Homo sapiens: one gene and its partners. The protein of the gene in region 2 purifies or fractionates together with the protein of the main gene of each other region. This does not show direct contact. Each region holds a gene or a part of one and is shown on either strand. Other genes may lie near its edges. The genes, in order: ATF6, CLEC3A, LSM14B, LBR, ZNF579, RSPRY1 and ZNF430.

Region 1 (3,972 bases), on a different chromosome or scaffold from region 2:
AAAGCTTTATAGACACTGAAATTTGAATTTCACATAATTATTTTAAATAATAAGCCTACTTTTTTAGTATAATTATAGATTTACACAATAATTGAGCAGATAGTACAAAGAGTCCACATACTTCCCCTTCATCCCCAGCTTCTCCTATTGGTAACATCTTGCATTAGTGTGGTACATTGGTTACAATTGATGAGCCAGTATTGATACATTATTATTAACTAAGCCCATCATTTAAAGTTCACTCTGTTGTACATTCTATGGCAGGGATCCCCAGCCTTTTGGCACCAGGGACTGGTTTCATGAAAGACAATTTTTCCACAGGAGGTGGGGACAGGGAGGCACAGGAAATGTTTTCAGGATGATTCAAGTGCATTACATTTATTGTGCACTTTATTTGTATTGTTATTACACTGTAATATATAATGAAATAATTATATAACTCAACATAATACAGAATTAGTGGGAGCCCTGAGCTTGTTTTCCTGCAACTAGATGGTCTCATCTGGGGGTGATGGGAGACAGTGATTAGATCATCAGGCGTTAGATTCTCATAAGGAGCGTGCACTCTAGATCCCTCACATGTGCAGTTCACAGTAGGGTTCACACTCCTATGAGAATCTAATGCTGCTGCTGATCTGACAGGTCGTGGAGCTCAGGCGGTAATGCAAGTGATGGGGAGTGGCTGTAAATACAGATGAAGCTTCGCTCACTCACCCACCTGCTGCTCACCTCCTGCTGTGTGGCCTGGTTCCCAACAGGGTTGGGAACCACTGTTCTATGGGTTTTGACAAAGGTATAATGACATGTATCCATAATTACAGTATTATATAGAATAGTTTCACTGCCCTAAAAAAGCCCTATGCTCTACCTATTTTTTCCTCCTTCCTCTTCCCTACCTCTGGTCAGGTAACCACTGATCTTTTCACTGTCTCCATGGTTTTGCCTTTTGCAGAATGTCATATAGTTGGAATCATACAGTATGTAGCATTTTTGAATTGGCTTCTTTCACTTAGCAATATGCACTTAAGGTCCCTCCATGTCTTTTCATGGCTTGATAGCTCATTTCTTCTTAGCACTAAATAGTATTACAAAAATACTATTTACAGTGTTACAAAAAATAGTATGTATGTTCTATAGCCTATTAGTCTGCCTAGGCTGCCATAAGACAACACCACAGACTGCGTGGTTTAAACAATGGAAATTTATTTTCTCCCAGTTCTGGAGGTTAGAGTTCAAGATCAAGATGGCCGCACCTTCAGGTTCTGGTTAGGGCTCTCTTCCTGGCTTGCATGCACATGGCTGCCTTCTTCTTGTGTCCTCACATGGCACTGAGAGAGAGAATCTTCTTCTTCTTATAAGGCCACAGTCCTATCAGATTAGTGCCCCACTTTAATGACCTCATTTAACTTTAATTACCTCCTAAAGACTGTATCTCTCGATATAGTAATATTTGGGGTTAGGGCTTCAACATACGAATTTTGGAGGACACAGTTTAGGCCATAAATTCACAGTTTGCTTATCCACTTACCTATTGAAGCACATCTTGGTTGCTTCCAACTTTTGGCAATTATATATAAAACTGCTGAAAACATTTGTGTGCAGGTTTTTGTGTGGACATGCATTTTCCAATTGTTTGGGTAAATATCAAGGAGCACAATTGCTGGATTGTGTGGTAAGAACATGTTTTTTGTTTGTTTTGTAAGAAATTGCCAAACTGTCTTCCAAAGTGGCTATACCATTTTGCATTCCCGCTAGCAATGAATGAGCATTTTTGATGCTCCACATCCTTGCTAACATTTGGTGTTGCCAGTACTTTGGATTTTAGTCATTCTAATAGGTGTGTAGTGGTATGTTTTAATTTGCAGTTTCCTGATGACATATGATGTTGAGCATCTTTTCATATGCTTATTTGCCGTCTGTATGTTTTACCCTCCTCTCTCCTTCTCTCTTCTCTTTTACTCTTGCTTGAATTTGTGCAAAAGCTGCTTTATTCTGCTTTCTTCTTTCTTCCCTCCTCCTCCTCCTTTCTCCTTTCTCCTTTTTCCTTCTCTTTATTCTTCTGTCAGCTGTACTTAAGATATGTGTATCAAGATCAGAAGCTTTCGTCTGCCACTGTGGTTTCGTTTATGTCTTCAGTCTCTTCTGTGAAGGTTCTCTTGGCTTTCTAGCACTAAATCAAAATCTGGTGCTCCTGGATGACACAACTTCCCGTAATGCCCCGGTGAACGGTTGCTAATTTTATTCTCAAAACCTTTTCACCATAGGGCCTCTGTTGGTGGGATAGGTGTCTCCATTGTCCTTCACTGCTATTCTCCTTTCCTCCTCCCTAAAAATATCTAAGTTGAAATCTCATTTTGTCACAATATCCCATCCTCTACCTCTCCTGATTCCTGGATCACTCTCTTTCACTTTTCTTTTTTTCTTTTAGAGATGGGGTCTTGTTCTCTTGCCCAGGTTGGAGCTGGAGTATGCGGTGGAGCAATCACAGCTCACTGCATCTTCAGACCCCTGGGGTCAAAGGATCCTCCTGCCTCAGCCTCCCGAGTAGCTGGGACTACAGACACATGCCACCATGCCTGGCTTCTTTTTGGCTTTTTGAAAACATTTTGCCACTAGCTTACTGTTACTTTCTTCACCATTACTTCCATCATGATTCTTGGATGATTTCAGTATCCTTAGAGAAGATCCTTCAGATACACTGACCTGTCATTTTCTGGACCTCCTCTTTATCACTGATCTTACCTTTTACCCAGTCTCAGCCATTTGCTTTCCTGATCATAAGCCTAAGTCTTGTCACTACCAATAACATCTCACTTTCAAACATCCTGCTCTGACTGCCTTCGCCTGTTTTACCAGCTTACTTCCTTTAGTATTCCAGTTTCAATAGTTGTTCAGTCCTTCTGAGATTTTGCCATGTTTCCAGTGTCTCTCATTCTCTTCAGTTCATCACGTCCCTCTTACCCAGTTTAAATACCATGGACAGTCATTGTCACTATTTCCTTCCTTTCACCTTTCATATTCATGTCTGTCTCTTTTCTGGTAGGTTTCTCTTGGATAAACCTATTAGTTAAATTCAGTTTTGCCCACTTCATGCCTGTCCTAGTATAGCTGAATCAGCTGAAGAAAACACTTCAACTGTCCTGACTGGTCTCAATTTAAGTGTTGCCAGACCAATCATATTTCCCTGGTCCTCTCACTGTCCCATTCTGATGATTGCTTTATAAAGTTTCTTCTATCTTCAAACCTCCAACATCTCTCCCATCCTTTGAATCAGAAGAGAACTTCTACAGTCTCCCACTACCTCATTTACCCACCTATCAACATGTTTGCTTTCTCTTTTGTTGGTGAGAATGAGTGGCTTCTTGCTCCTAGCTAGAGCCAGTCCTTCCATATGTGCTTTAGATTCTTCCTGTTTTGTTCAAGAATATTGCTCAAGCTATTCTTCCTCCTGTTTCCTGCATCAGCATTTCCCCTCTCTACTAGATCATCTCTGTCAGTAAATGAACATGTTGTTGTTTCTCCTAGAAGTACTGTTTCTATATCTAGATAGTACTCTAGCTAGAGTTAAAAAAAAAAAAAACAAAACCAACAAACTCAAAACTCTCTTCAGATGTTACTTCACCTCTTGCTGTTACTGCATTTCTCTACTGTATGTTACAGCAGAATTCCTTTTAAAAAATGTCCACGTTCACTGACTCTAGTTTTTTATTTCTCCTTGTCTCTTGAACCCAGTCCAGTCAGGTGCCACCACTCCACTGAAACTCCTGTTTTTTTTTTTTTTTTTTTTTTGAGACAGAGTCTTGCTCTGTTGCCCAGGCTAGAGTGCAATGGCACGATCTTGGCTCACTGTAACCTCCACCTCCTGGATTCAAGCGATTCCCGCCTCAGCTTCCTGAGTAGCTGAGATTACAGGCGCCTGCCACCATGCCCGGCTACTTTTTGTATTTTTTTTTTTTTGAGACGGAGTCTCTC
Region 2 (4,721 bases):
TTCCTACATCAGTGGTCTTACTATGGTCTTACTATATTGGTAGGTTACAAAATGGCTTTAACTTGGAGGAAATGAAGATGAAATAGACTGTGGTTTTTCTCATTAAGATTCAGAAGGAAGCACTCATTCCTTGATTCTTTCTGTATTGTCTCAAAGAAAAAACAAAGGCAAAATGAACTTGGTCCTTCAGACCTTCCAAATCTGCAACCACTGCCCTCCATTTGCACCTGGTCAGCCAAATAAGCATGTGGAATGCAGGAAGGCCTTTCCCTGGGTCTAAATTCCTCCCTCTCGGCTATTCCTGTAATGCAAGTCCATTGCTTTTGATGCAAAAGCCTATCAGGTCCCGAAAACTTGCCCTTAAAGCCTATGGTTAAAGGTAGGAATAATTGAGTTTCTCATTACATTAATTTTATTTTTATTTTTTATTTGAGAAGGAGTCTGGCTCCGTCGCCCAGGCTGGAGTGCTGTGACAAAATCCCGGCTCACTGCAACTTCTGCCTTGTGAGTTCAAGCGATTCTCCTGCCTCAGCCTCCAGAGTAGCTGGGACTACAGACTCCTGCCACCACGCCCAACTAATCTTTTTGCGTTTTTTAGTAGAGACAGGGTTTCCTCATGTTGGCCAGGCTGGTCTCGAACTCCTGACCTCAAGTGATCCACACACCTCAGCGTCCCAAAGTGCCGGGATTACAGGCGTGAGCCACCACGCCCGGCGAGTCTCTCACTAGGTTTCTGTGCTATTACATCATGCACTTGAAAGTGTTGTTTAATGTGTTCAAGGAAAAATGATTGGTGAGGACCTGAAAAAATAGCTATTGATCTATTACATTAATTCTTATTCTAATGGAAATAATTCACTTTTTAAAATTTTCTTTTCACTGTAAGGTACATTTTCCCAAGAAAGTAATTTGCCCGGGCTGGAGGGCAGTGATCTCGAACTCCTGGGGCTCAGGTGATTCTCACACCTCAACCTCCCAGGTAGCTGGCATTACAAATGTGTGCCACCATGCCTGATGAATTTTTTTATTTTTTTGTAGAGATGGTGTTTCGCCATGTTGCCCGTGCTCTTCTCGAACTCCTGACCTCAAGGGATCCACCCACTTCGGCCTCCCACTGGGACTACAGGTGTGAGCCACCACATGCAGCCCCAAGGAAGTAATTCTTGATGAGTCTACAAAATCCTAATGGAGGAAAGCCCTATATTTTATCATCGAGTATCTATTTCCGCAATCTCCATAAATCCCACTGAGAAAACTACTTCCAAGCTACACTTGAGCTGCGCAGACACATGAGTATGAGTAGACACACTGGCTTGAATGGTGCTGTGGCACCACACACACACACACACGCAGTAACTTTCCTTTTTCTCCAATTTTTTTTTTGCCCTGAAAACTAAATTGAATCCATTTTCCAGAACATTTAGTGAATTTCAGAGTTCCAAATCAAAGAATTTTTCACAAAGACCCCAATCTTCTCAGAGTTTAAATTTAAAAAAAGAAAGCAGGCTAAACCTGTAGTTAAGTTTGACACACTCCAAAAAGGCAAATCACTAGGAAATGCAGCAGAAATTAAATAAATAGAAAGCCTAACATGAGGCACAAGAACAAGAGGCCACCTTATGCTGTGGCCAGCAGAGGCATTCAAACATTCCGTCAGCAGGATTCCAGCCAACCTCCGAAGCTCACTTTTATAAGCCAGCCCCAGGCATCCCAGAGCAAGATGTAGCTGTGTAGTCTCCTTCCATAGCTGCTCTAAGGGGGCTGGCAACATGGCTCAGCAGGCTTGCCCCAGAGCCATGGCAAAGAATGGACTTGTAATTTGCATCCTGGTGATCACCTTACTCCTGGACCAGACCACCAGCCACACATCCAGATTAAAAGCCAGGAAGCACAGCAAACGTCGAGTGAGAGGTAATGGGGCTTCTCAATCAAGCAAAATTCTAGGCTTAGACAGTGTGGGGAGGTGCTGGACAATGTTAATTTTCAAACTCCTCCAGGAGACTATCTTCGGTGATGGCACCATGCCATCATCCCTATATGGCATTTCAGGGGATTAAGTGAACTTGTAATGCTCTGGGATAGTTTATTTTAAAGAAACCAGGCTGCTGGGTTTTAAAAAAAAACAACAGGGAAAAAATTTGATAGTAAAAGAATTCTGTGTTGTATATTTTTTGTTAGGTGGGCTTAAATAGAATGTGCTTCAGAGGAAGCTCAAGTGGATTTCTGAAAATCTGGTGTTATTAATATGGGGCAAGAAGAATGTATTAACTGAGCACACTGTTTCACTAGTAGATATTGAGTAACTCAATTCAGTTATATTTTAAGATAACTATAATCTTATTCAATGTGTAGCAGAGGATAGAGATTTTGGTAATGGTGACTTCCTGTTTTGTCATTAGTTATCATTAGCTGTATTTCCATATCCTTGGCAGCATAAGGACAACCTATACCATATATTTAAACTTTTTCATGTCAGAGACATTGAATCTCTCCAACTTAAAAAAGTCAATATGCAAAGTCATCTAGTATTTGAAGGCATTGTGATGCAAAACTGAATCTCCCAGGAACCTCAAATTTTGAGTGACTTGAATTGGGTTAACAGGTTAAAGAAATTGAAAAGAACAATGATGATAGCGAGGTGTTTGCAATACGTTGAAACCTAAGCAAAAGAAAAAAACAAGACAGAGGGTCATGTTTTATCACATCCTCTGCATCATTTTCATTTCAGGATATTTCAGATTATGACTATTTCCTTATTTTCACTCCATTAGTAACAACACACACATACACAAATTTCAGCAAGGTTACAGTCTATTTCACATGACAGATGGCTGGTGGGTAAAAAGGGGTCTTGTGCTTTAAGGATTATAAAGTACCATTTTTTCAGGGACATTTATTTACAAAATTTAGGTCTGGTGCAAGGTTTCTTTTTTTTTTTTTTTTCTGAGACAGAGTCTCGCTCTGTCGCCCAGGCTGGAGGGCAGTGACACAATCTTGGCTCACTACAAGCTCCACCTCCTGGGTTCACGCCATTCTCCTGCCTCAGCCTCCCAAGTAGCTAGGACTACAGGCGCCTGCCACCACGCTCGACTAATTTTTTGTATTTTTAGTAGAGACGAGGTTTCGCCGTGTTAGCCAGGATGGTCTCGATCTCCTGACCTCGTGATTCGTCAGCCTCGGCCTCCCAAAGTGCTGGAATTACAGGCGTGAGCCACCGCGCCCGGCTAGTGCAAGGTTTCTTAAGTGGAATCTTTTTTCCTTAAGAAATACTGTACTTCTTTCGGTGAAAGATTAAAATATTTCTCATGAGTAGATGAAACATATTGCTGAAGATGGTATCGAAAGGAGAGGGGAGAGAGAAGATACTGGGTGACATGGTACATTTCTGTAGCCAGCGTTTCTTCACTGCTGGATGGAGTGGCACTCCTCGTGAGAGTGGCGATCACCCAGTAGGAATGTGTGAAGAGGGTCTGAACATGACTGAGTGTGCATGTGGGTGCTGTGTGGGTGTTTCTGAAGTAATCGCAGCTTAGGTCACATCCAGGTTTTCCAGGGGCCTCCCTCCCCTTCCTCCTCCCACTCTCTTCTCTCTCCCTACCTTCTTTCCCACTTCTTTACCCCCTTCTTCCCCACTGCCTCTGTCATAACCACATGTGCATGCACATGCTTTTATTTAAAAACAAAACAAAACAAAACTGACTAGGTACACACCTCTTAAATGTCATTCCCCCAGTATAGTTTTTGCTACTTTTTGCCATTAGGTCCTAGAAAGTAGATTCTACAGTAGGTGAAGCAATAAACCTAAACCGATCAAGCAATTATATCCCCACCCATCCATATACTTTTAAAATAGTTTAAGTACCTTGAAATATAATAATACCAGTGTTAAAGAGATCAAAAGTGAAAGCCATCTTCTCTCTCCCAATCCTCACCACAAAATTATCCACTATTAACTATCAGGTAATACTATTCCCAGAAGTTTTGTGTTTTGTTTTTTGTAGGATTGTTTGTTTTGAGACAGAGTCTCACTCTGCCACCCAGGCTGGAGTGCAGTGGTGTGATCTCGGCTCACTGCAACCTCTACCCACCAGGTTCAAACAATTCTAGTACCTCAGCCTCTCAAGTAGCTGGGACTACAGGTGCTCGCCACCATGCCCAGCTGATATTTGTACATACATCTTTTTTAGTATAGATGGGGTTTCACCATGTTGGCCAGGCTAGTCTCAAACTCCTGACCTCAGGTGATGGGATTGCAGGCATGAGCCATCATACCCAGCCTATTCCCAGAGTTTTTAAAATGCACAATTAAAATACATATTTTTAACAAAATAAGAATTGGCTATGCAGAATGTTTGGCTAGGCAAATAAATTTATTTCATCTATTAAACCTTGGATAGTTACCAGTGTAAGCAATACTTTATTCATTTTAACAGCTGCATAATATTCCATTGTTTGGATGGGTCATCACTTAATCTGATCTCTCCCAATACATCTCTTTTTGATTCAATAGCCCCAAGTAACTGCTTTGCACACATACTGCTCCCCATGTTAGGATGTTATGAGACATTTCCAGAAGTAAAATTGCAGGTTAATTATACTTTCTAATTGTCCCTCCAAATGATAACACCAATCCATCTTCCCATCTTCTGTGTATGGGAGTGCCCATTCCTATGTATTTTGACAGTCCAACATCATATAATGGTTTTACTGGCCATGTCTTC
Region 3 (3,972 bases), on a different chromosome or scaffold from region 2:
TTCCGTAAAAGCAGTAAGATGAGATGCCCAGTCTTCATGTGTATTGGGCTGTTCGTCTAATAATAATTACCCTGTGGTTAGGGTGCCTTTTCTGTTTCAGATCTCTGTTCACTTACACCCAGTCCCACATTGTCCTGTTTAGAGTCCCTACAGGTCCTGGAACCTTGGAAAGGGAGGAGATGGAGAGAGGTGGGTGGTGCTTCCCATTTTCCTCCTGATTCAGAGGGCCTGGTTTCTGAGGGTTCATCCCCTGTGCGTGGGCCTCGGACTGCAGTTTCATAGGCATAGCCCCTTGCCAAAGGCTACCTAGGAGCCCTTTGTGTCTTCATGATGAGCCTTTGCCCTTGAGAGAAGTGTAGGCTGCTACGTCTCGGAAGTCAGCTCCTGCTTCATCATTTTTAGTTTTATTGTGCCTTAAGTGGAAATGACAGTGTTGTAGAATTTAACTTCAGAATTTGTTCACTGCATTTTCTAGAAAATCCCAGGCTGGGCTGGTTCTTCTCCAGTGTGGACCAGAATGAAACAAATTCTCAGATCCTGAATTCATCAGGATCTTGGGGCTGCTGAGCTCCTTTGGGATTGGAGCTTGTGTGGTTTTAAGAAAGCTGTTTCCACACTTCTGGGGAGGTGCCTGTTTGTAGGCACGGTGTTTTTCCTGTCCTTGAGGTTCCCTAACTTGGGAAGCTCAGGGCTTTGGGAGTGGGGAGTCCAAAGATGAACTGGCCTTGGTGCTGCCCAGTGACTCTTGGCCTTCTTTTGCTGCCTGGGCTAGCCTCAGAGGGAATGGCCCAGTCTGGGGGTGCTTTGCCTGGATTTGATAGAACATCTAGGCAGTTGCCCTCCTTTCCTTCCTGACATGCCAGCAGAAGAGAAATGCCTGGAGATATAAGGCTTGCTTCTTTTCTCTCTGTTTTTAAACCCTCCTCCCCTCCTCAATTCAGGAGCTGGTTTTCCATCCATCCCAGTCGGCAAGAGCCCCATGGTGGAGCAGGCTGTGCAGACTGGTTCTGCTGACAACCTGAATGCTAAAAAGCTGTTACCTGGCAAGGGCACCACAGGGACGCAGCTCAACGGTCGTCAGGCCCAGCCGAGCAGCAAGACGGCCAGCGGTACTTGAACACATCATTTCCTGGAGTTTGCTTGATGTTCTAAAAGTGGCACACTACTTCCTGGGCTATTTTTTTTTTTTTAATTAAAAAAATACTACTCCCCCATCCTAAGCCCCATGTGCTTTTGCAGGGCAGGCCTGTGCAGCAGCCTCCTGCGGTGCCGCCCTGGCCGCGTGCCCCATGGTGGTGGGGCCTGCTTCCACAGCTGGGTTCTGGCTTCCGGCTGCTATAGGAGCTTTGCCTTACTCTTCCCTTTTGCGCCGTAGATGTAGTCCAGCCGGCAGCTGTGCAAGCTCAAGGGCAGGTGAATGACGAGAACAGAAGACCTCAGAGGAGGCGATCAGGTAACACCTGTTGCCACTTGATTTCTGGGGACCACGAGTGATCAGGCTGAGCTCTGCTTGCCCTCCTGCCTGCTTCTCTGGTTGACGGTTTCAGGGGTGCTGGTGTGAAGTCGCTGCTTGTGTGCTCTGTTCCTTCTGTGGCCTTGGGGGTGTGCCTGGAAATTCCTTGTGAGGTGTTTGAGATCACTGGGTTGGTGACCTACTTCAGCCAGGGCTGTCCTTTGTCCTCACAGGAAACAGGCGAACAAGGAATCGCTCCAGAGGGCAAAACCGTCCAACTAACGTTAAGGAAAACACAATCAAATTTGAGGGTGACTTTGATTTCGAGAGTGCAAATGCCCAGTTCAACCGAGAGGAGCTTGACAAAGAATTTAAGAAGAAACTGAATTTTAAAGGTTTGGCTCATTATATGAAAATTATTCTCTGCACAGGAGTACCCCTAGAGAGTGTTAGGAGGAGATGCCTGGCCGGGTGTGGTGGTTCACGCCTGTAATCTCAGCACTTTGGGAGGCTGAGGTGGGTGGATCACCTGAGGTCAGGAGTTCAACACCAGCCTGGCCAACACAATGAAACCCCATCTGTACTAAAAATCCAAAAATTAGCCAGGCGTGGTGGTGGGCGCCTGTAATCCCAGCTACTCGGGAGACTGAGACAGGAGAATCGTTTGAACCCAGGAGGTGGAGGTTGCAGTGGGAGTGAGCCAAGATTGCGCCACTGCACTCCAGCCGGGCGATAGAGCAAGACTCTGTCTCAAGGAAAAGGAAGAGATGCCTAGAGGAACCGGGGATGCCAGGCGGATGGTGACCGGCAGTGAGGAATTAATGAAGTGAGGTGCTGGGAGGTGTGAAAATGGGTGGGATAAGGTGCAGACTGCACAGCCCAGACGGCAGAACGAGACCTGTACTTAGAAGGTAGAAGAAGAGATTTCTGCTTTGCACAAGGCATAGTTGATGTCTTAGCTTGAGGGTGGCTTCCGAGTGAGCCCGGAGGGACCACCCTGCTAAAAGGCTGTGCGCTCTGCCCCTCCTCCATCTCCACGTGTTCTGCTTCTTTTTGTAGATGACAAGGCTGAGAAGGGGGAAGAGAAGGACCTGGCTGTGGTGACCCAGAGTGCCGAAGCGCCCGCTGAGGAAGACCTTCTGGGGCCCAACTGCTACTATGACAAATCCAAGTCGTTCTTCGACAACATCTCTTCTGAACTCAAGACCAGGTGAGAGGCTGAATGAATGAGGGGAGGACAGTCCTCCAATCTAGAAAGGACAGGGCTGAGGGCTCTCAACCTGAGGGCAGAGCTGGACTCTGAGGCTCAGGGTAGCTGTTCTAGGGTCCTGCTTGCGTTTCTGCATGATGGGTGCCGGAGTCCCAGCAGGTTGCGTGTGGGAAGCCTCTTGGGGATCCCGACCCGAGGAGTTGGCTGAGGTCGAGCCTGTTTCCTCTTGGCTTTGCTGCCCTGTCCCCACAAAGGCTGGGCTGCACCGCCCCCCCCGGCAGACCCGTGTCCACATTCAGCATACCTCACGGTGCTCTGCTTGCTGGTCCCGCTGGCCTGGCAGCCTGAGGTCCTTGCTTAGCAGCCTGAGGTATGGCTAGAACGTGCTCACACTGGCTTTCCTTCACTTCATTGTTTGAGGCCAGGGACCATGTGGTGTGTTTTATTTTTCACACCTAACAGCTGGTCAGAAGTCCCGCGAAGCACCCTAGGGAGTGGGTGGCATCTACAGTGTGGGCCTGGCTTGGAAACTTGGGCCCATTTGTCCTGCAGATTGAGCGCCAGACATGCCGCGGGGCGTTGAGGGGGCCTCAGAAGGCAGGCTGGAGAGCGCCACCTCTTCAGGTTCATGTTCTGCCAGGGGAAAAATAGAACAGCATGTCGTGAAGGCCAGGCAGTGAGGGCGATGGGATGGGGCTGTAACTCGATGGGAAGTGGATGATCAGTTCTCACAGGCAGAGCAGGCTGCGCAGATGAGTGCGGGAAGTGCTTCCAGACAGGCCGAGTCTGGGGGATGGGTTCCTGTAGGGTTTTGTAGGGCATGGCAGTGACTTTGGCTTTTGTTCCAAGTGCCGCGGGAAGCCATCAGAGGGTTTTGTGCTGAAGCGTGGTGCGGTCTGATGTTTTACGGCGTCCTTGGTGAGAGTGGTTGGACGGTGGGCAAGTGTGGCTGCTGACTGGCCAGTTAGGGGCCAGTGCTGCAGCACAGGTGGCTTGGAACCAGGCAGTGGTGGTGACAGAGGGAAGGAGTAGAGTCTAAATGTGTCTTGAAGGTGGCGCTAACAGAATTGGCCAACATGACAAGAGAAGAGTCCAGAATGACTCCTAAGTCTTTTGGCCTGGGCGGCTGATGGGTGGAGTTGCTGTTTCTTTGAACACGGAAGTCTGTGGGAGCAGCAGGTTTCCGGCTGAAGAGGAGCTCAGGGTGGGTGTGCTGCTGGAGCTGTTGTCTGCGTCGGTAGGAGTGCTGGGTGGGAGTGCTGGGTGCACAGTTGGATGTGGGAGATAGTCTCCCACCAGCAGCTTGTTT
Region 4 (3,972 bases), on a different chromosome or scaffold from region 2:
TAACTTTTCTTTGCTTTATTTTTATTATATCAGTTTATATTTATGTAGGAAAGTGATAGTGTGGATGAATTAATGTAAGAAAAAATGCATTTTCCTCCTTTTTAAATTTTACCTAGTTTTAGGCTTGGAGTTGCAGATAGAGAGCAAAGAGTTCCCTTCCACCCTTCATTCTGTTTCTCACAACATTAACCTTGGAGGAAACCGTAGTGTAGTGATGAAGAACAGCAGATTAACATAGTGACAGCATTGGTTACCAAGTCCACAGGCCTCAGTCGAGTTCACCAGTTTTTCCGCTGTTGTCCTTTTTCTGTTCCAGGAACCTCGACAGGACTCCACAATACATTTAGTTGTTATTCCTTCTTAGTCTTCTCTAGTCTAATAGTTGTTTAGGCTTTCCTTGTCTCTCATGACCTTGATACTTTTTGGAAGGTACTGGTTGGTTATTTTGTAAGTGTCCCTCAGTTTGGGTCATTCCAGTGTTCTCTTTGATTGCGGTAAAGTTACCCACTGTGACAGGAACACAGAAATGATAGCTGTGTCCTTCTCAGTGCATTGGGTCCAGGGGCCCATGGTGCTGAGATGTCTTATTCCTGGTGGCGGGTAGGAGTTACGGTGGCGTCTGCCAGGTGTCTCAGCTGTGAAGCTCACTCATGCCTTTGTAGTGCTAAGGTCTCTGGGGAGGTGCTTTGAGGCTATATACTTTCCCCTTTTGTTTCAGGTGGTTATTAACTTGGTGATGCTTTTGGCTGAAATGAAAATACAGGACCGCGCTGTTCCATCCTTGGCCATGATTTTAGTTAATAGTTTCCAGCTTCTCTATGTGGTGGATGCTCTCTGGAATGAGGTAATTAATTTTAAGAGCCGAGGCCTTGGAGTCAGATGGCTTTGAGTGGGTGAGTGACCTGTCAGAGCCTCGGCTTCTTGCACACAAAGTGAGGGGAGCATGGCCTGCCTCCAAGGCTGCTTGAGAGGAGGACGAGGCCATCCATGTGAAGCTGACGAGGGAGCACTGACAGGTGGGAAGTTTCTAGGCATTTGGGAGTGCTTCAGTGTTTATCAGCTGTTCTTGTGTTTAAAAGTAATATTCTAAATATTTAAGATTGGTGGATCTTGGTTTTGTTTTTGTGGGTGGTGGTAATTATGGTATCACATGAAAATGGATGGATTATTACTAAATTAGAATGGTGTTTCTTGGACTGTCAAGAGTCACCTAGTTTTTAAATAATGGGGGAGATGTTTTATTGTTAATGTTTTAAAATACAAAGACTAGCTCTAATTAGATGAATGTAAAATCAGAAATCAAGATGCATTGAGGAAACCAGTTGAAATAAGGCTAAGTTTCCATCTTGTGTCTTTTTTCATACATTGATTAGTCTTTCTACTAGTTGAAGACTGGTAAATGTTTTGTTTGTTTTCTCTGTCTCAGCCAGCATATTCCTTTTAAAAATTTTGTCTTCCTCAGGCTTATTTTACAAGTATTTTATCGTATTTACTGTTATCTTTGTAATTATCTCCAAATTCCAACTCTAGTTTTCTTTCCATATTAAAAACAAATCTGGCAGCTGTACATCATAATGTTCCAAAACAAGTTTTAGTGACAGTCTGTTGAGACAATCTGCTGACATTTTGAGAGAAGACCTTTTCTCTTTGAGCCTGGAACATTAAAAAAAATTATATTATTTGGTCATCAATACTATGTATCTCCCCCACCCCTGCTGGCTGGTCTTTAATTTTGGCCTTCTATGCAAAATTGCAGAGAACATTTAGTCAGAACAACTTCGCAAGTTTGATATTGGTGTTTCGATGATCTCCTTGTTATTTAGGAAGATTAGGGCCACTTTGAGGTAAACCTCAATTACAAGCGGTGGGATTAGTGCTATCCGCTAATTACGGGTTCCTGTTGCGCTCCTACCACTTCACAGACCCTGGCTCAGAGCTTGGGAAGCTGTGAAGGTGGTGATAACACTTCAAATTGACTTTAAAAATTCCACGTCGACCCAAAATTAAACATGTTTTTGAAATTAAAAAACAACTGTTTTGTAAATGCACTTACTGTTACCAGTGTAGCTTTGTTTGCTGTTATAGAATGAATCGCCAAAAGAGCATATAGGTTACAGTTTGCAAATCAAATGATATTTCACAGTTGTGCTCACCTCAGAGGCTTCTTTAAACCTTCCTTTCTAGTAGCTTTCCACTGATCAGTGATTATTTCTTCTGGTTTCTTCTATTACTAGCTTTCTGCCATGTTGTGGTTGTCACTTTTTAATTGGCTTAGAAGTTGATATTTTCTATAGATTTAGCCAAACATTGACTTGTGTTAAAAGAAAATTTTTTGCATCTTAAGGCAAAACGCTTAATGCAATATTAACATAGCCCCAGGGGTAGAGAACTAGAGTTAGGAAATTGTTTTCTGTCTGTTCTCAGTATCTCAGCCAGATGATAATAAGCTTCTTGAGGAAAGATTGTATTTTATGATTTCTTCAGCATTCTGGCATGCCACTGGGCAATTAGCAGATGCTTAATAACTTCTGTCAGGTCACTTGATAGAAATCCCTCTGTATTCAAGAATGTGCTATACCTTAAGAAAACTGAGACTACCTGTTTAAATATGCATGACCCTTCCTCTGAGCCGTCCTGTGAAAGCCTTGGGGCTCAGGAGCTGGTGGGGCTAAGGTCCTCCCCCTACCCGGCATTGGGTGCTTACCCTTTGCCCTCTCACTGCCACTCACCACACCTGCTTTTATCTGCTCCCACCAATTTGTCACCTTTATCCTCTTTTGGACCAGGAATCAGATCACAGGCCTTGAGAGAGAAGAATAAGACACTCTTGGGGACAGAAAGTTAAAACACCGTGTGTCCTCACTTATATGTGGGCGCTAAAAAAGTTGATGTCATAGAAGTATAAAGTAGAACAGAGGATATGGGAAGGTGGGAAGGGTAGGGGGAAGGGAAGGATAGGGAGAGGTTTGTTAAAGGATACAAAATTACCACTCGATAGGAGGAGTAAGTTCTAAGTTCTAGTATTCTATACCACTGTAGGATGACTATAGTTAACAGTGATACATAGTTTCAAATAGCTAGAAGGATATTGAATATTCCTAACACAAAGAAAGAATGTGTTTGAGATGATGGATATGCTAATTACCTTGATTGGATTACTATATATTACATGTATTGCAACATCACTGTGTACCCCATAAATATGTACGATTATTACATGTCAATTTTTTTTTTTAAAGAGAATAAAGTACTCTGGTTAACTAAAGAGTATAAGCCTAAGGAGCTAGATTTTGTGAGATTGGTTTTTCTGTTTCATGTGACATCTGTTTTTCTGTTCCATGGCCTATTTGCTTTCTTTTCTGGAAAAAAATGCTATTTAGAGGTACCACTCTTTTTCTTTAACCTAGAACTTTGATTCTCCAACAGAGCTTATACTGGCTAATATTTCTACATCAGTGGTCTGTACTGAGGTTCTGGGTAGTTTAGAGATTCCCTTAGGCCAGACCTTCAGAGTGTTGACCTTGGTGGTGGTTCCGTATTCTAGAGTCTGGCCTGCCCGTATCCTGGGCCAGAGGCGATCTGGCTCATGCTAACCAAATCACCAGGGAGTAATGCACTTTTATTAATTTACATGAGAAGCGAAGCTGTCAGTTCACCATGTTGCCAGGCAGCTTAATTTCTTCTGTGGAAAATGCACATGAAATGCCAGATTATGAACAGAAATTAGATTGGTCCATGTGGAATTGAAACAAAAAGAGTTGGTGATCTTATTCCTTCAGCAAGCATATTTTGAACACTTCTCTCCATGGCGGGCACTGTGCTAGGTACTGGGGTGGCAAAGGTGAAAACACACAGCCTCTGTCTTTTAGAGGCTTTTAGTGTAGTGAAGAGTGACTAGACAAGTACAGTAACCCAATTACTGCAGCCTACTGGTGGGTGGTGATATCTGAGAAGTGCCCAGGTCTGAGCAGC
Region 5 (4,604 bases), on a different chromosome or scaffold from region 2:
TGGGAGGCCGAGGCAGGTGGATTGCTTGAGCCCAGGAGTTCAAGCCCAGCCTGGGCAACATAGGGAGACCCCATCTCTACAAAACATACAAAAATTAGCCAGACATGGTGGCACACTCCTGTAGCCCCACCTACTCAGGAGGCTGAGGTGGGAGGATTGCTTGAGCCCGGGAGGTCGAGGCTGCAGTGAGCCGAGATCACACCACTGCACTTCCTCCAGCCAGCCTGGGCAACAGAAGGAGATCTCATCTCAAAAGAAAACAAAACAAAACAAAAAAAAACAAACAAACAAAAAAACAAGGATAGAGTGTAGTAAATTTCTGTCCTGGAAGTTAGACTATGTTGCCAGTTTCAGTTTCTTCTCTCTTGTTCCAGTTCATCTGGACACAATCCCAGAACACACACAAACCCAGAACAGGCTGCAGGCTGTACTTGACCTTCCATTTTTCTCTTCTACAGGTTATCACTTGGAGACTTACCATATATGCACACGGTGAGCTTCTTTGTTCTTTTCTATGGACACCTAGTATTCCACTGGGTGGATCAGTCATGATTTATTACTCAGCTCTCCTACAGATGGGTGTTTAGATTGGTTTCAGCTGTTTGCAGTGATGTGCAGTACTGCAATGATTAACCTGGTGCAGACATTATTTTGTGCAGTTCCGAGTAGATGCCTCTGAAGAATAAATTCCTGGAATTGCTGGCTCGGTAAGAATGTTCCAGGTTCTACTTGCCCCAGCCGTGTATGAAAGGACCTGTTTGCTCGCACTCTCATTAGCACTGTTTGGCAGGAATGTAACCTTAAACAAACAGCGTCAAGCTGTGGGTATACTCCTGCAAAATGCCTTTTCTGCTCCAGAATAGGTTTCTGAGATGTCGCCAGGTTGGTTTCATTCTGCCAATTTCAGCTGAAACATTGCTGCCTCCAGGAAGACCTCAGGAATCACCTCCTCCCAGTGTGAGCTCAGCTCAGTGCCTTCTGTTCTCTGCATTCCCATAGCAGTTCCCTGCCTCGGAGCACACGTTCCCCCACATGCACTCCAGCGTGATTGATCCGTATCTATCTGCCTTCCCCATCAGACAGTGAGCTCCGGTTTTTGCCACTGTGACTCCAGCACCAAGGACAGCACCAGCCCATAGTAGGTGCTCAGTAAACATTGGCTGCTAAGGTCCCAGTGAATATGCGTATATGTAGACAAATATATGCAGGCTGGCCCGTAGTAGATATTCAGTAAATATTGGTCGCTTAGGGTTGAATGAGTATATGCAGGGGCTTTCACAAAGGGGGAAACCGAGGCTCGAAGTGGGAGAATCCTTCACCCAGACAGCCAAGGGAAGGCTGGAGCCAGGTTCTGATCCAGAGTGCCAGTACTTCCTGAAGCCTCTGTCACTGATTCATTCATCTTCCTCCCCCGGCCACTCCCCTGGCCTGACACAGTGCCTGGCACAGACAGGACCTGATAAATGTGTATTTGTTGAAGGAATGAATGAATATGTGTGTGTGCATGTTGGGGAGCCGGGAGTAGCTGGACCCAGTGTTCCAGGCCCTCAGCACCCTCCGCCCTCTGGGAGCCCGGGGGACAGGCCCCCAGCCCCCTCCCCTCACAGGACCCTGTAGTGCAAGCTGCCTTCCCTCCCCTCTCCAGGTCCCCCGTCCTCCCGCTTCCGGCTTCCCAGCCAGTCTTTCCTCTTTCAGGCTCCGAGGAAAGGCCAGGTTTCCGGGGGGAAGGCTTAGGCAGTGACACCGAGCCCAGCCTCCTCCTCCACCCCCCACCACGCTCAGGCCCCCCTCCCTCCCCGCCACCACCGTCCGCGTTTGGCCGGCCGTGGGGAAGGAAGAAAGGAGCCAAGGAGGCGAGGTAAGAACCCAGCCCCAGCGACCAGGACCAAGCCCCAGGCCCAGGGCTGAGAAATCCTCAAGGCCTCGACCCGGCCCCAATTCTGCTGATCATGCCTTCGGGGAGCTGCAGGCTTGGCCCGGAGGAGATCGGCCCCCCTCTAGGACCTGGGACCCCCGACCCCCACCAGCCTCCCTCCCGAGTCCAGGGGTCCGGCCCTCAGTCGCCTCCTCCCTGGGGATTCCCGGCAGCTGGGTCCCCAGCCCCCGCCTCCCCCTTGTCCTGGGAGCCCAGCCCCCTCCCCAGCCCCTCCTCCACCGGGACCCAGGAATCCACACCTCCTCCATACCAGAGTCCAGATTCCCCAATCCGTCATGACCTGGACCCAGGAGTCTCAATCCCCAGCTCCCATCCCCATCAGTCCCAAGAGTCTGGGCCCCTAGCCCCCTCCCAACTCAGACCAGAAGTCTGAACCCTCCTACTCCCCGACCTCTCCCAGCCCCTGGCATCTGAGAACACACTCTATTTCCGGGGCCTACCGGCTTCAAATCCCACCCCCTCCACTCAGGCCCCATGGGCTGTGTCCCAGCCCCTCCCAAAACGTTCAGCCTGGCCGGGGGACCTGGAGCAGAAGCGGTTCGCTGACTTTGTCCCCCTCCGTGCCTCTGCCCAGTTCACTCCCTCTGTGTCTCTGTCTCCCTGTCTCTCCGGCCCCCAACCCGCCACTGCTCTTCTGATCTCTGCTCTTGCACTATCTCTGCCTCTGGTTCTCCAAGTCTCTTTGTTTCCTCTTCTCTGTGTCTCTGTCTCTCTGCTGGGTGTTCCTCACTCTCCTCTGTCTCTTCTCTGCTCTGCCTTTCACCATCCTGTCTTTCTGCGACTCCTGGTCTCTGTCTGTCCATCCCCACTTCTCTGTGTCTCCCATCTCTGCCTTCTCCTGTCTCTATTCCCTGCTCTGTCGCTCTGTCTCTGATCTCTCTCCTCCTGTCTCTCCATCTCTGGCCTCCCCTCGGTGTCTCTCATCTTTGTCTCTGTCTCATATCTCTCTCCTGGCTAAATACCTGACCCTCTCTGCCTCTCCATCTCTGACTGTCTCTGCTTCTCTTTCTGCCACACCCCACGCACCTCTTTTTATCTCTGCCCCGCTTCCCATCTCTCCCCTCTCTCCCCACAGGCATGGATCCGCAGCCTCCTCCACCCGCCCAGGGCAGCCCACCTCACCGTGGCCGAGGCCGGGGCCGTGGCCGAGGCCGTGGTCGGGGCCGTGGCCGTGGCAGGGGGGGCGCTGGAGCCCCTAGGGCGCCCCTGCCCTGCCCCACCTGCGGCCGCCTCTTCCGTTTCCCCTACTACCTCTCCCGGCACCGGCTGAGCCACTCGGGGCTCCGGCCCCACGCCTGCCCGCTGTGCCCCAAGGCCTTCCGCCGGCCGGCCCACCTTTCCCGCCACCTGCGCGGCCACGGGCCCCAGCCCCCGCTGCGCTGCGCCGCCTGCCCCCGCACCTTCCCAGAACCGGCCCAGCTCAGGCGCCACCTGGCTCAGGAGCACGCGGGCGGCGAGGTCGAGCTGGCCATCGAGAGGGTGGCCAAGGAGACGGCCGAACCCAGCTGGGGCCCGCAGGACGAGGGCTCGGAGCCGCCCACCACCGCTGCAGCAGGGGCCACGGAGGAGGAGGCGGTCGCAGCGTGGCCTGAGACGTGGCCTGCGGGGGAGCCTTCCACGCTGGCTGCGCCCACCAGCGCCGCGGAGCCCCGGGAGTCGGAGTCGGAGGAGGCCGAGGCCGGGGCAGCAGAGCTGAGGGCCGAGCTGGCGCTGGCGGCCGGGCGGCAGGAGGAGAAACAGGTCCTGCTCCAGGCAGACTGGACGCTGCTGTGTCTGCGCTGCCGCGAAGCCTTCGCCACCAAGGGCGAGCTCAAGGCGCACCCGTGTCTGCGCCCCGAGGGCGAACAGGAAGGGGAAGGGGGGCCCCCGCCACGCCCCAAGCGACACCAGTGCTCCATCTGCCTCAAGGCCTTCGCCAGGCCCTGGTCCCTGTCGCGCCACCGGCTGGTCCACTCCACCGACCGCCCTTTCGTGTGCCCAGACTGCGGCCTGGCCTTCCGCCTCGCCTCCTACCTCCGCCAGCACCGCCGCGTCCACGGCCCCCTCAGCCTGCTGGCCCCGCTGCCCGCGGCGGGCAAGAAGGACGACAAGGCCTCGGGTGCACGGAACTCAGCCAAGGGGCCGGAGGGGGGCGAGGGGGCGGAGTGCGGGGGTGCCTCGGAAGGGGGAGAAGGGCAGAACGGAGGCGACGCCGCCCCGGCTCGGCCCCCCGCCGGGGAGCCCCGCTTCTGGTGCCCAGAGTGCGGCAAAGGTTTCAGGCGCCGGGCGCACCTGCGGCAGCACGGGGTGACCCACTCGGGAGCGCGCCCCTTCCAGTGCGTGCGCTGCCAGCGGGAGTTCAAGCGCCTGGCCGACCTGGCGCGCCACGCACAGGTGCACGCGGGGGGCCCAGCCCCGCACCCGTGCCCCCGCTGCCCGCGCCGCTTCTCGCGCGCCTACAGCCTCCTGCGCCACCAGCGCTGCCACCGCGCAGAGCTGGAGAGGGCCGCCGCGCTGCAGGCACTGCAGGCCCAGGCCCCGACGTCGCCGCCACCGCCCCCGCCGCCCCTGAAGGCCGAGCAGGAGGAAGAAGGGCTCCCGCTGCCCCTCGCAAACATTAAGGAAGAGCCGCCCTCTCCGGGGACCCCACCCCAGTCCCCGCCGGCTCCCCCTGTCTTCCTCAGCGCCT
Region 6 (3,500 bases), about 21 Mb from region 2:
GTAACAATCAAATTGTTTTGGTAGAACTCTTTCATGCACATTATCTTATTAAAGCCTCCTGCTCTGAGGTAGAAAATAGTACTAGCTCCATTTCACAGTTAAGCAAGTGAGCCCACAGAATTAAGCAACTAACTCCAGGGCACTTGGCAAGCACATGGGAGAGTCCAAACCAGTAGCCACATGTTCTGATTTCTAATCCATTGTTTCTTCCACATTACGTGATGTAAGTAGCTGAGCTATGCCCCTGTACTTTGCTGTTAACTTTCTTAAAATGGGTAACATTCATAAACAAATTAAATACCTGCTTCTCAGGAACTGCTCCAACCAGAAGTTCCTTTTCCTCTCCCTCTACCTTGTATGTCTTCATAATCGAGCTAAACTTTATAAAGTGTGTATATATGCAAATTATATATTGTATACACACATACATATCTTTGTTATGCTGAATTTAGCTTTTCTCCCTTTTTTCTTTTCCTCGCTCCTTATTCTTAAAGCAAATAAGCACAACTTTTTTCTTTTAAAATTTCCCCTGAAAATCCACAAAGCTAAATTAAATTGCATTCACCTCTGTAGCCTTTCAGTAATTTTCTTCCAGTTAGTCTATGTCTCTCAATATCATTTTTAAGAGATTTCTTTCTGGTATAGCAGTTTGATCAAAGACATACAGTACAAATTTCCCTTTAATGTCAAACAACTTAAGATCTTCCACTGTGGAGTGTCCCAAAGTTACCTGCTAGTTTCTCGGCCAAGCAGCCTAGGACTGCAGATGTGTTCCTGTGTTTGGCAGGATGGCTTGAGTCCTGGCAAGCTACTTCTCCATTTAAATTGAGAATTTCAGTCAATTTCTGGAGTGCATCCTAAAACAAAAAAGTACAAGTGGGTTTGACCCATATACTACACAGGTTGTTTTCCCAGGCTCATTTTTTTTTTGAGACAAAAGCTATAACCAGCACTTTGGGAGGCCGAGGCGGGCGGACCACAAGGTCAAGAGTTCGACACCAGCCTGGCCAACATGGTGAAACCCCATCTCTACTAAGAATACAAAAATTAGCCAGGTGTGGTGGTGCGCGCCTGTAATCCCAGCTACTCAGGAGGCTTAGGCAGGAGAATCACTTGAACCTGGGAGGTAGAGGTTGCAGTGAGCCGAGATCGTGCCACTGCACTCCAGCCTGGACGACAGAGCAAGGCTCCGTCTCAGGGGGGTGGGGGGAGCTATAACCAGGTGTTAAATAAACTCAGAATGACCATATAAAAATTATGCAATGTACCCTAATGATATCATTGATGGGAAATATCTGATCAACCTGAAAGTCTCCTTACATGACTTACTAGATTCCACTTCATTCAGAATGCTTAAGTTGTATCAAATATATGCTACATATTCTTGAATCACTAAACAGATTAAACCCACTCAGATGCCATTATGAAAACATTAAAGGCTGGTGATGTTGAAGTAAAAAGTTACTTTAAAAAAAGTTTTACTAAGCAAAAACAAATCCCAGCAGAGTTTTCTTCTTTTCTTTTTGCTCTTGCTCTGTTTCCCAGGCTGCTGTGCAGTGAAGTGATCATGGCTCACTGTAGCCTTTACCTCCTGGGCTCAAGTGATCCTCCCACTTCAGCCTCCCTCGTAGCTGGGACTACCGGCACATGTCACAGTGCCCAGATAATTTTAATTTTCTGTAGAGATGGGAATCTCATTATGTTGCCCAGGCTGGTCTTGAACTCCTGGCCTTAAGTGATCCTCCTGCTTCAGCCCCCAAAAGTTTTGGGATTATAGGCATGAACCACTGCACCCTGCCCCAACAGAGTTGAAGGCAAATTGAAACAGGCAGCTCTTATAAGCCTAGGCAAAGGTCAATTCATTGGTGACTACGCTAAAGACTTTCCCCTTCCGTCCACAATGTTTTTCTGCACTGGGCTTAAACAGATGAATGAAAATGCCAGAATTGAGGCTGGGCACAGTGGCTCATGCCTGTAATCCCAGCACTTTGGGAGGCCAAGGTGGGAGGATGCTTGAGCCCAGGAGTTTGAGACCAGTCTGGGCAACATAGCAAGACTCCATCTTAAAAATGAAAGATGCCAGAATCCAAAAGAAGAAAAAAAGAAAAAAAAAAAGGACTCTGTAAAACACATGGGAAAGCAATGAAAGTTCGATGCTTTTGTTCTATGTAAAGGATAACCAATGTTACACTAATCATTAATACATTTGAGTAAGATTCAAAAGTGCTTTCAGTTTTAACTTTTTTTTGTTGTTGTTGTTGAGATGGAGTCTCACTCTGTCGCCCAGGCTGAAGTGCAGTGGTGCAATCTCAGCTCACTGCAGCCTCCACCTTCCGAGTTCAAGTGATTCTCCTGCCTCAGCCTCCTAAGTAGCTGGGATTACAGGTGCACGCCATCGTGCTGGCTAATTTTTGTATTTTTAGTAGAGATGAGGTTTCACCATGTTGGCCAGGCTGGTCTTGAACTCCTGACCTCAAGTGATCTGTCTGCCTTGGCCTCCCAAAGTGTTGGGATTACAGGCATGAGCCACCGTGCCTGGCTTTCTTTTTTTTTTTTTTTTTTAACAGAGACAAGGTCTCACTATGTTGTTCAGGCTGGTATCAAACTCCTGAGCTTAACTGATCCTCCTGCCTTGGTCTCCCAAAGTGCAGGGATCACAGGCATGAGCCAGTACATTCAGCCCAGTTTTTCCTCTTAATAAAAAACATTCTTAAAACTTTTGTTATGAGGAAATTGCTTAGAGAAAGATAAGAAAATCAGCGAAGCAACTCAACATTCTCTTCTAGCTTCTGAATAAAGATCGCCACCTGAGATACAAATACTTCTTTTTTTAACCAGGCTGGAGTGCAATAACGCCATCTTGTCTCACTGCAATCTCGACCTCCAGATTGCAAGTGATCCTCCCACCTCAGCCTCCTGAGCAGCTGGGACTATAGGCATGCACCACGTTACCCTGTTAACTTTTGGATTTTTTTGTAGAAACAGGGTTTCACCATGTTGCCAGGCTGGTCTTGAACTCCTGGACTCAAACAATCTGCCTGCTTTGGCCTCCCAAAGTGTTGAGATTACAAGTGTGAGCCACTGCGCCCAACCTAAATGCTTCTTTTTTTTTTTTTGAGACAGAGTTTCGCTTTGTCGCCCAGGCTGGAGTGCAGTAGCACAATCTCAGCTCACTGCAACCATTGCCTCCCAGGTTCAAACAATTCTCGTGCCTCAGCCTCCTGAGTACTGGGATTACAGGTGCCTGCCACCACTCCCGGCTGATTTTTAGTAGAGACGGGGTATTTTAGTAGAGACGGGGTTTCACCATGCTGTTCAGGCTGGTCTCGAACTCCTGACCTCAGGTGATCCACCCACCTCAGCCTCCCAAAGTGCTAGGATTACAGGCGTGAACCACCGCGCCCAGCCTTAAATGCTTCTATTTTTAACATTTAAAAAATTTTAACCTAGGCTGGGCACAGTGGCTTACACGTATAATCCCAACACTTTGAGAAGCCAAG
Region 7 (3,972 bases), on a different chromosome or scaffold from region 2:
AAAAGGGTTCATGAATGCGTGTTTCAAACAAGTTCCCTGTCAATGCTGATGTTGTTCCCCCTGGGCTCATTAGCATTAGTTAGAGAAGCAGGTACAGCACAGAGTCCCTTACACTTAGCACTCTTGTCACAACACAAATACTTCTGGTACAAATAAAACCAATCTCCATCTTAAATTTTTATATTCTTCGCTGGCTCTTTAAAGTTTACAGAACAAACAGAAGGCGGCAATGTCTGAATAAATCTGCCTTTGGAAAATAACATGTACACATATACAAATGCAATGTTTATTAAGCAGGTACTATGTGCTCAAGGATATGTTACAGAGCACTGTGCTGGGAATAACACATTTTGTGATTTAATCCTAATAACACCCTGGAAGTTGATACTAAGTGTTCAATAATTCCCAGGACTTAGATAAAGGGTTCAGCATTTTTATTTCTCCCTCTGTTTCTCTGTCATTGATTTTGTTTTAAAGGTATAGAATAAAAGTTAAATACAGGCAGATGAGAAGAACATAGAAAAAGTTTAATGTAGTTTAGAGAAATTTTTATTGTGTATACATTTACTTGTTTGTGGCTTGTGGAGCAACTGCTAGATTGGCAGAAACAGAAAACAAGGTGCTAAATGGAATGTTTCTGTAAGCACTGGTTTTAATACAAATTCAAAAAATAAGATCCTAAAATAAATAGTTTATTTCTGTCATTTATCTGTTTTTGGGTTTCAGAAAATTGTGAGCACCAGCTCTAGAAAAGCAGCAGGACTCACCAGACAAAACTCCAGTCTTTTTTTTTTTAGATGGAGTCTCGCTCTGTCACCAGGCTGGAGTGCAGTGGCACAATCTTGGCTCAATGCAACCTCCGCCTCCCGGGTTCAAGCGATTCTCCTGCCCCAGCCTCCTGAGCAGCTGGGATTACAGGCATGTGCCACCACGCCCGGCTAATTTTTGTATTTTTAGTAGAGACGGGGTTTCACCATGTTAGTCAGGCTGGTCTCAAACTCTCGACCTCATGATCTGTCTGCCTCGGCCTCCCAAAGTGTTGGGATTACAGGTGTGAGCCACCACACCCAGCCAAAACTCTGATTTTTATAAATCAGTTTTGTGAGGTAAGGCTCCAGAGCGGGGCCAGACATAAATAAGGCCTCCAAAAAACGTGAATCTGAACAGAATTTGGGCAGGGAAAGGACCCTATGTAGAATTATGTTCTCTCTGCCACCAAGGTATTTCCAGTTCTGTTTTTCCTAAGCTTACATAAGAGAATCTTAAATCCCAGAGCTTATGTAACTTTAATCTATTTTTGCCACTGCCCTGTCAATTTTATAACATATACTAATAAGCAATTTAAACAAATTTATTAAAGTTCTTTAGAATAATTATACTAGAAGATAAATATATATTCTTAGCAAAGTAAAGGAAACACAAATAATAACAAATCTTCACTCCATAAATATCTCCTCAGCTGATGGTATCAGAAGTAACAATATAAAACAGTGGCCCCAATTTTTTTTGGACACATCTATTCATTGTACCAACCATATAATGCTTAATTCACCCATGTATCCAGTTGTTAGTCTAGACATGTTCCTGGATAGTAAGGATCATGACTGCTTCATCTGTTTTTTGAATGGCCATATAAAATGAAAACAATTACTTTATCTGTTTGAGTCACCAGACCTCCTATTGCTTTCATCCAAGTATCAGGAAACTTGAGAAACTCTCATCTGGGTACCAACCAAAGTTATCTCTTGTATAAGGGGAGAAAAAAACACAGAATTGCCAGGCATGGTGGCTCACACCTGTGATCCCAGCATTTTGGGAGGCTGAGGTGGGCGGATCACAAGGTCAGGAGTTCAAGACCAGCCTGTGCAATATGGTGAAACCCTGTCTTTATTAAAAATGCAAAAATTAGCCAGGCATGGTGGCAAGTGCCTGTATTCCCAGCTATTTGGGAGGCTGAGGCAGAAGAGTCACTTGAACCCGGGAGGCGGAGGTTGCAGTGAGCCGAGATCGCGCCACTGCACTCCAGCCTGGGCGATAGAGCAATACTCCGTCTAAAAAAAGAAAAAAAACCCTAAAAAAACCACACACACACAGAATGACTCATTTCTCTTACACCAAGCCAGAAGCAGAATTAACCACTCTTGTCAGCCTGACACAATTCTGCCCTGGACATCCTCAAATGTCTCAAAGACGTCTAGGTGATTGTGAGAGGGTTCTTAGTGACCCTGGGCTGATGGCCCAATGATAATCCAGGCTGGAGAGATTCAGGCTGATTCTAAATAGAAAATGGCCTGGTGGAGCTCCAGAACCTAATCACTTGTCCCAATTTGCTAGCTTTTGGGTAAGGAGAAAGACAAGAATACTCTACTCCAGTATCACATTTTACAGGTAGGTATAGTTGTGGTCATGGCTATGGATACATTATGACTTTGATATCTCACTCTTAAAATGCTGATTCTGTCATCAGATTCTATTTATATCTGGAGCCTCTCACATAACTGTGGCAAATCACTGAACAAGATCTGAAAAGCTTAAAGAACCACACTGTCAAAGGGGGCTTTAAGATGTCTATGTTGACAACTCACAATGGAGAAAATGCCTCCTGTTGGTTTTCTGTACATTCTCAACCTAAAGTCTGGCCGTGTCCTGTAAATCCCAGGAAGAGGCCAGACCTTATGTGCAGATTCTAGGTAGGATCAACCACACTCTGCATTCTTGGGTGTTACAGCAAGTGGAGTACAATCAAAGGAGAGATCCCCTCATAGAGGCTGCTCTAGCTCATTCTACGTGATATGACTACCTAAAAGGAAAAAGCTGAGGCAACATGAATATAAGAGTTTATTTGGGCCAAGCTTGAGAATAGTAACCTGGGAGCAAAGACACATTTTCCAGAGACTGAACAAATAAGAAACTGAATCCCTGAATAGACCAATAACAAGCTCCAAAATTGAATTAGTAAGAAATAGCCTACTAGCCAAAAAAAAGCAAAGAACCAGACAAATTCCTAGCTGAACTCTACCAGATGTACAAAAAAGAGCTAGTACCACTTCTACTAAAAATACTTCAAAATATTGAAAAGAAAGGACTCCTTTTCAACTCATTATATATAAGAATAGCATCATTCTGATATCAAAACCTGGCAGAGATTAAAAAAAAAAGAAAACTTCAAGCCAATATCCTTGATGAACATTGATGAAAATACCATCAACAAAATACTGGGAAACTGAATTCAGAAGAACATCAAAAAGCTAATCCACTATAATCAAGTAGGCTGCATCTCTGGGAGGCAAGTTGGTTCCATATACAATCAATAAATGTTATTCATCACATAAAGAGAACTAATAACAAATACCAAGATTATCTCAATAGATGCTAAAAATACTTTCAATATAATTTAACATTTTTCATGTTTAAAACCCTTAACAAACTAGGCATTGAAGGTATATACTTCAAAACAATGAGACATCAACGACAAACTTACAGCCAACACACTGAATGGACACAAGCTGGAAGCATTCCTCCTTGAAAACTGGCACAAGATAAGGATGCCTTCTCTCAAACATCCTATTCAACATAAAATTGGAAATCCTGGCCAGAGCAATCAGAGAAGAGATGAAAATAAAAGGCATCTGCCGGGCATGGGGGCTCACGCCTGTAATCCCAGCACTTTGGGAGGCTGAGGTGAGCAGATCACGAGGTCAAGAGATCGAGACCATCCTGGCCAACATGGTGAAACCCCGTCTCTCCTAAAAATACAAAACTTAGCTTGGCATGGTGGCATGTGCCTGTAGTCCCAGCTACTCAGGAGGCTGAGGCAGGAGAATCGCTTCAACCTGGGAGGCGGAGGTTGCAGTGAGCCGAGATCACACCACTGCACTCCAGCCTGGCGAGAGCAAGACTCTGTCTCAAAAAAAAAAAAAAAAAAAAAAAGAAAAGAAAAGAAAAAAGGCATCCAAACAGGAAGAAAGGAAG

Evidence for each region.
Region 1: the proteins of CLEC3A (region 2) and ATF6 purify together in Homo sapiens (affinity purification with mass spectrometry; 2 studies listed by BioGRID and IntAct, with this or other methods). This does not show direct contact.
Region 3: the proteins of CLEC3A (region 2) and LSM14B purify together in Homo sapiens (affinity purification with mass spectrometry; 2 studies listed by BioGRID and IntAct, with this or other methods). This does not show direct contact.
Region 4: the proteins of CLEC3A (region 2) and LBR purify together in Homo sapiens (affinity purification with mass spectrometry; 2 studies listed by BioGRID and IntAct, with this or other methods). This does not show direct contact.
Region 5: the proteins of CLEC3A (region 2) and ZNF579 purify together in Homo sapiens (affinity purification with mass spectrometry; 2 studies listed by BioGRID and IntAct, with this or other methods). This does not show direct contact.
Region 6: the proteins of CLEC3A (region 2) and RSPRY1 purify together in Homo sapiens (co-immunoprecipitation; 3 studies listed by BioGRID and IntAct, with this or other methods). This does not show direct contact.
Region 7: the proteins of CLEC3A (region 2) and ZNF430 purify together in Homo sapiens (affinity purification with mass spectrometry; 2 studies listed by BioGRID and IntAct, with this or other methods). This does not show direct contact.

Annotation. Positions count from the first base shown.
Region 1 is NC_000001.11:161,769,197-161,773,168, forward strand, and holds part of ATF6 (cyclic AMP-dependent transcription factor ATF-6 alpha), read left to right. Parts: exon of another isoform or gene 1-3,419; intron 3,420-3,972.
Region 2 is NC_000016.10:78,020,831-78,025,551, forward strand, and holds the start of CLEC3A (C-type lectin domain family 3 member A precursor), read left to right. Parts: upstream 1-1,717; 5' UTR 1,718-1,796; coding exon 1,797-1,911; intron 1,912-4,721. UniProt on the Homo sapiens protein: Promotes cell adhesion to laminin-332 and fibronectin.
Region 3 is NC_000020.11:62,128,844-62,132,815, forward strand, and holds part of LSM14B (protein LSM14 homolog B), read left to right. Parts: intron 1-81; coding exon of another isoform or gene 82-189; intron 190-941; coding exon 942-1,109; intron 1,110-1,375; coding exon 1,376-1,453; intron 1,454-1,686; coding exon 1,687-1,848; intron 1,849-2,512; coding exon 2,513-2,663; intron 2,664-3,512; exon of another isoform or gene 3,513-3,972. UniProt on the Homo sapiens protein: mRNA-binding protein essential for female fertility, oocyte meiotic maturation and the assembly of MARDO (mitochondria-associated ribonucleoprotein domain), a membraneless compartment that stores maternal mRNAs in oocytes.
Region 4 is NC_000001.11:225,407,163-225,411,134, reverse strand, and holds part of LBR (delta(14)-sterol reductase LBR), read left to right. Parts: intron 1-718; coding exon 719-844; intron 845-3,972. UniProt on the Homo sapiens protein: Catalyzes the reduction of the C14-unsaturated bond of lanosterol, as part of the metabolic pathway leading to cholesterol biosynthesis.
Region 5 is NC_000019.10:55,578,049-55,582,652, reverse strand, and holds the start of ZNF579 (zinc finger protein 579), read left to right. Parts: upstream 1-1,804; 5' UTR 1,805-1,858; intron 1,859-2,510; exon of another isoform or gene 2,511-3,011; 5' UTR 3,012-3,013; coding exon 3,014-4,604. UniProt on the Homo sapiens protein: May be involved in transcriptional regulation.
Region 6 is NC_000016.10:57,210,329-57,213,828, reverse strand, and holds part of RSPRY1 (RING finger and SPRY domain-containing protein 1 isoform 1 precursor), read right to left. Parts: intron 858-3,500; coding exon 731-857; intron 1-730.
Region 7 is NC_000019.10:21,026,786-21,030,757, reverse strand, and holds part of ZNF430 (zinc finger protein 430), read right to left. Parts: intron 1-3,972. UniProt on the Homo sapiens protein: May be involved in transcriptional regulation.